Linked DNA regions of Homo sapiens. The protein of the gene in region 2 interacts with the protein of the main gene of each other region in a pairwise test. Each region holds a gene or a part of one and is shown on either strand. Other genes may lie near its edges.

Region 1 (3,999 bases), on a different chromosome or scaffold from region 2:
ACTCATTACAACATTGGACATCAAACTAGGAAGCATACATTTATTTCCTTTTATCTTCATTTTGCAGCTAAGAAAACTTAAAGTCATATAGAGAAAAAGGGGAAATGTATTCATACTTAGATATCTCTGACTTCACAACCTATACCTTCTTTCCACTATGCTACACTGTATTGTCTTATCTGGCTTAGACAACCTTATCTGTTTCCAAAAATACCTGACTTGCATATTAGCATTCTGCCTTCTTCTGTTGATTATGGCAGAATTTGGCTGTGAATCTGGTTGGGTGGCATAGGTGTAACTTTCCTACAGTGGATAGTTCCAGATGGACACAGGGCCAGGAAGCAGCATTCTTTTTTGGGTTATTTGCCTCTGCGTTGTTTTGCTCATAGCTCTATCTCCAGTTCCTAGAGGAGCATCTGCTAGAATGCTCAATCTGTTCCTTGAAAGGATAGATTAATCTTTTTCTCCAATTCCTTTACAGGTCTCACAGGTGCCAAGTTTATCTGCTTTCAAGACAGCCAGTGGCATAGCGAATGCTTTAACTGCGGGAAATGCTCTGTCTCCTTGGTGGGTAAAGGCTTCCTGACCCAGAACAAGGAAATCTTCTGCCAAAAATGTGGCTCCGGAATGGACACTGACATCTAGGAGACAGTCCTTGCCCACCTAAAATCCATTTTGCCTTCGTTGTCACTAAAGCCAGAACTCAGTTGCGGTCTTATTTTTGACTTAAGTTTTAGAAAATATTCATGTAGTTTAGAGTGGAAAAGTTTTTGCACACATTTTGATCGAACTATATTCTAAGCACACAAAAAGCACAGTAGAACAGAAATGAATATATGCTAAATCACAAAGACAACTCTCCTTGCAAAATACTGCACTCTGCTGTTAGAAGCAGAGGAAAATATCTCTTCATAATCAAATATATGACATATACCTAGGAGCTGTGGATGTAATTACTGAAGAATGAGGTTTTTCATACCTGAAGAGTAAAAGAAAAACTAAGAGATCAAACTGAGAGGTATACATGAGGCTAGTGTTTGCATTCCTGGTTATATGTAATGTGATAAATTAGCTATGAATGGTAAAAGAACAAAACTGATCAGAGTAAATTCATTAGCAATTATCACATTTAAGAATTGTTATCATTTAAAAATCATCCTTTTTTTCACACATACTGACTGTAGAATTAAAAAACAAAGCTACAATTTGCCCTCATACACACTGCTTCCACAGCTTGCTAGTTCTGTGTTTACTCAATGGAATATGAGAACTGAGGACATTATGGCTCTCATAATCTGCATAGGTATAAAGAGGATCATTTCTACCTAGGGATAGCCAAAGCATGGGTTTCAACACGTTTTGTATTAAATATATTTTCAAAGTCCACAGTGATTTTTCTAAACGCTTACAGATTCCATGAAATAAAAGTCTATTCTTTCAAGTGGAGCTAACCAGGATAATCTTTGTCCCCAAAGGCAAACCTTTAAAATAAATAGATCATTAAATCTTCACTTGTGGAAATGAGTTTTAGGGAAGGGATTGAGTCTTGGAACATGACTTTCATCCAGATATCTAACGACATAATAGAATGCATAATTAGCTCTGTGCCTCATGCATTATTGCCTTCTAAAATTACATAAATGATTAATGGGCAGACATAAAAGTGGGCTTTAAAGAAATCTAGTAATAATAAAAGCTGAAAAAGAATAATTCACTGCTGATAATTCAGAACCTGCAAAGCAGCACAATAGAGTAATGTGGGCTGTAGGCGAGCCCTCCCCACTCTTCCCCCACACCTGTGCCACACCCCCCTTACCCCAAGCCAGTTGTGCCCCCAGTTTCAATCTCCTGCATAACCAGGAGGTGCACTCCTAACCCTAAGCAACTGTCCTATAAGTCAGTCAGTGTTTATTGATCACACAGGAAGTAAAGAGCCTTAGTGAGAAGTCCATCACCAGGTTTATCTTTATACCAGACTTTAACTGATCATGACCCTATCTTGCTACCCCTGGATATTTTCCACATTACTTGGGACAAATGGAAAGCAACCTCTGCTCTCCATGATCTGTTTTCACATTGGTTATAGCATCTCTTGGATGGAGTAGAGGGAGGTCAGGAGAAGAAGCCCACATAGATATATAACTGTCTTCTCTCAGATTACACATTATAGCATTAAAGGTTTTGATTAAAATCTAATTGTAAGATACTGCTGATTACAATTACCAAAATAGCATCACAGGAGATTCAATTAAAATTGTTATGGAAATAATTTTTGAAATAGTTTAAAATGCAAGAATATTCAGCGATGTTAATAATTTAGAGATACTAATAAGTGTTCTGCTAGATAGACTATTTGAAAACTATAAATGTATTTTTGGATTAACAATGCCAAGGTATTTTTTCATATTCACATTGAAAAATACAGGCAAAACTATCAATATTTTTTCTGCATTATATGAAATTTCACAGGTAGAACTAAATCTATGATATAGAAAATAATAGCACATTACACATAGAGAAAACCAAGCCACTTAGGTTTAGATAGATATATAACATGTAACATCTTCTCTGTTAACCAATTATAGATACATATACAACATGTAATGTTTTCTTAGTTAAACAATTGGAAATGTTTAGGCATTTTACTGTGTGGGGGCAGTGAGTATGCACATGATCAGACTTGTATTCTAGCTTTACAATTAAAATTCACAGAATCATTTCCTAAAGATTTTATTATCCTTTCATAAGTATAAATATATATACTTTTACATATAAATAGTTCTGCATTTAGAAGGTATCCTACACATCAAACATCCATTAAACATGTACTATGCCAAAAGTTAGAGCTTATACTGTTGTGGGTCTGGAGTTGTAGGAGGATGGATCATGGTATGGAAATGCAGAAGTGCCTGATGCAAAGATCCTTGCCTGCAGGTTAAACAAAGCACCACATATGTAGACATAGCACACATATGCAAAACAACTAAGAAAAAGACCTCCTTAGGTCTTTGCGTAACACACACAAAGATAAATGTAAAAATTATATAGTTGATTTATATGGTTTATGTAACAAAGAGAAAAACTCCTTAATGGACTTATCCAAAGATGAAATGGACTGACTCAGGAAACAGTGGGCTCCCAGTAATTCAAAGGTGACATCTGCATGGGCAGGAAAGAAGTTAAAAGCAAATCCCATGTGCCAATAACAACCAGATGGCTTGGAAGTAGCAGAGACTGCCGAAGAGCAGGAGAAAATAAGATTGCTAAAAGAGAAAGAGTCAGAGGAAGGGAGAATATTAACTCTTAGGATAAAAAGTGACATAACCGGCCATAGAAAGTTACCAACTGTTCATAAGTAAAGGAAGAAAATAATTATTGTAGTGTTTGAGGAAAATTATGCTTTTGATCCTTTGTGGAATAGAACCAAAGAAAGCAAGGTTCCAAGGATTAAGTTTCTTACTGAAGGAATAAGTTTGGTTAATGGCTACAAAAGTGAAAAGAAAGAGGAAGAAGGCATTGAAGGCCACGAGTTACATTTGTTGGCAAAGATGAGTATGCAAGTCAACAAGTCAAAATATTTTATTTTGTCATGTTGGGGATTAAAGATGACAAAAGAAGCAAAAATGTATTTCTGCTTCAATAATAATGACTAGGAAGCCCAAGGGTTCAATTTTAACTTGGCATTATAAAAGTGTTAAATTGGGACAAACTAGCTCCACTGGTTAAGTAAAATGTGGTTATGTTACAATCCAGGCTTCAAAGCTTACATCGTTGCTATAACTTAAAAAAAAGAAACACTAGATTGTTCATTAGAGTAAAATATTGGCCTACCATTATGAAAAATGCATAACACTAATCACAAATGGTTAAAAAAAACTGCCAAATTTAATATCACAAATGAAAAGTCAATCCAAAAACACATTTCATGTTAGCAATACCATTTTTGAATTTAAGAAAAAAATAACTTTTAATCTACTTGGCATATTGTTAATTGTCTGT
Region 2 (2,778 bases):
CATTGAGCTTACCTCCCTATAGGGGAGAGAGCAGAGGTGGGGCAGCCTTTCGACTCTGTCCATGACGGCTGGCAGGGTCAGGGTAGTTTCTGGGCCTGCTTCCCGGCAAGCCGAGCTAGGGTGAAAACTGGGGGCGCACCAGGATGTGAGACAGAAAAGCAGAAGATGAGACTCTGTTCATTCACTTTTCCTAGGCCCATCCTGTGGTCATCTTTCCCCCTCCCATCATACCTCCTCCTTCCTGGAGCCTCTGCCGGCTTGGCTGTAATGGTGGCACTTACCTGGATATTTCAGTGGGAGGATGAAAGGCGAGACTCACCCTACGCGGTGGGACAGATGGGGAGAGGAAAAAGGCAGAGATGGCCAGGAGAGGGGTGCAGGACAAACCAGAGAGGTTGGGTCAGGGGAAAAGGGTGGGGAGAAAGAGGGGTGCAGGCCCTGCAGGCCGGTTAGCCAGCAGCTGCGGCCTCCCCGGGCCCTTGGCATCCAACTTCGCAGACAGGGTACCAGCCTCCTGGTGTGTATCATAGGATTTGTTCACATAGTGTTATGCATGATCTTCGTAAGGTTAAGAAGCCGTGGTGGTGCACCATGACATCCAACCCGTATATATAAAGATAAATATATATATATATGTATGTAAATTATAGCACTGAGGGCCCTGCTGCCCTGCTGGACCAAGCAAAACTAAGCCTTTTGGTTTGGGTATTATGTTTCGTTTTGTTATTTGTTTGTTTTTGTGGCTTGTCTTATGTCGTGATAGCACAAGTGCCAGTCGGATTGCTCTGTATTACAGAATAGTGTTTTTAATTCATCAATGTTCTAGTTAATGTCTACCTCAGCACCTCCTCTTAGCCTAATTTTAGGAGGTTGCCCAATTTTGTTTCTTCAATTTTACTGGTTACTTTTTTGTACAAATCAATCTCTTTCTCTCTTTCTCTCCTCCCCACCTCTCACCCTTGCCCTCTCCATCTCCCTCTCCCGCCCTCCCCTCCTCCCTCTGGCTCCCCGTCTCATTTCTGTCCACTCCATTCTCTCTCCCTCTCTCCTGCCTCCTGCTGCCCCCTCCCCAGCCCACTTCCCCGAGTTGTGCTTGCCGCTCCTTATCTGTTCTAGTTCCGAAGCAGTTTCACTCGAAGTTGTGCAGTCCTGGTTGCAGCTTTCCGCATCTGCCTTCGTTTCGTGTAGATTGACGCGTTTCTTTGTAATTTCAGTGTTTCTGACAAGATTTAAAAAAAAAAAAAAAGGAAAAAAAAAGAAAAAATGAATTTACTGCTGCAGGTTTTTTTCTCTCTCCATGTGTCACTAAGTGAAGTTTGTGCCTTCTATAGCAAAGAGAATATTTTTTACATCCTACTAACAGTAGATTTTTTTGTAGTGAACATTTTTTGTATTTTTATTTATAAGTCTCATAAGAAAAATAGCAATGTTCAGTTGTATACCTTGAATCTGCAGTTAGAAGAGAATAAAGTTAATTCAGTTGTCTCTCGCTTGAAGCGTCCCACCTTTTTATTGAAGTACTTGGTTTTGTTTTGTTTTTTTTTTTTGTTTTTTTTGCCTTTTCTTGTGTGGGGAACATGGTAGAGGAATTAAGATTTTTGTGTGGGGACTGGGAAAAAGAAAGCTCTGTATTACACATATTTAGACTTATCTATGTGTCACTTTTATGCCACATTTACAAGGCACAGATGCACTGAATAACATTTTTCTAATACTTTTTAGTTAAAAAATGTTAAATACGTTAATATCGTATGATCCTTGGTACAATGTGCTAGGTAGGCACTTGTTCACTTATTCAGCAAGACCACCATGTACCAGTTACTGTTGTCGGCGCTGGGAATTACAGCAAAGGACAAACAGACAAACCCTGGCCGCCCTGGGGCTACCATGCTAGCGGGCCGCTGAGTCGGAATCCGTGGCTGTGTTAGGATAACTTGCTCAGGATTGCACGGCTGGTGAGCAGCAGTCAGAACTCCATCCACCTCTCCTGATACCAGGCCAGGTTCCTTTACTCCAGAGTTCTCAAAGCAGGGGTCTCACGTCTTCTTTAGTCTTTAGAGAGACATTTTCAACTGACTCCTTAGTGGCTAAGCAAGCTTCAGAAATTTCTCAACAAGAAGCTTCCACACAATCAAAGGTCCCTGCCTGCGTCTGTAGCAGCCAAGAGCTGTTAAGAAAGGAGATTGGAGCAGGTGGCCTTGTGCAGGGGAGGGGATGGGTGGGAGGTGGCCGTGCAAGCTCTGCATTGTCATGGACGGAATAAAGGATTTCCACAACACTCAATGGGTACGATTCCCTCCCTGTCTCATCTCCCTGTGTCTGGGCCAAGCCCTCTTCTCTGGCCCTTTCCCCGTTCCTCTTATCGGGGATAGAAGCATCGCCCTATCTTTAGCTGTAAAACCAAAGCCACTCAATCCTAGACGTGGTGCTTCAGCACCTCTGCCTGAGGCCGTCCTCACTGCCTGTCTCTGACCAAAATAACCCCTCTCCTCCTCAAGACCCAGGGGACACAGCCATGATTGTCGTGCTGGGTCACTCCGGTAGGGTAAACCCACACCGAGCATCAGGCCTGGCCTCCAGCATCACCAGGAGTCGCAGGGAGCCATCACCCCACGCGCCACCGCCACCCACCTGGGGAGCCAAACAAGGCCTGGCCTGCCAGGGGTGGCACTGGGAGGGTTACCTTTCAGCCCTGTTCTCCTGGGGCCAAGACCCGGGTCTGTCTGACCCTGGGGTTGCTGAGCAGAAACCGCCTGGAGCTACCCCTACCACCGGACA

What was found.
Region 1: the proteins of ZBTB16 (region 2) and FHL5 interact in binary tests that used the Homo sapiens proteins (3 or more experiments, as listed by UniProt).

The regions. Positions count from the first base shown.
Region 1 is NC_000006.12:96,615,128-96,619,126, forward strand, and holds the end of FHL5 (four and a half LIM domains protein 5), read left to right. Parts: intron 1-481; coding exon 482-645; 3' UTR 646-3,499; downstream 3,500-3,999. UniProt on the Homo sapiens protein: May be involved in the regulation of spermatogenesis. Stimulates CREM transcriptional activity in a phosphorylation-independent manner.
Region 2 is NC_000011.10:114,254,488-114,257,265, forward strand, and holds the end of ZBTB16 (zinc finger and BTB domain-containing protein 16), read left to right. Parts: 3' UTR 1-2,278; downstream 2,279-2,778. UniProt on the Homo sapiens protein: Acts as a transcriptional repressor. Transcriptional repression may be mediated through recruitment of histone deacetylases to target promoters. May play a role in myeloid maturation and in the development and/or maintenance of other differentiated tissues.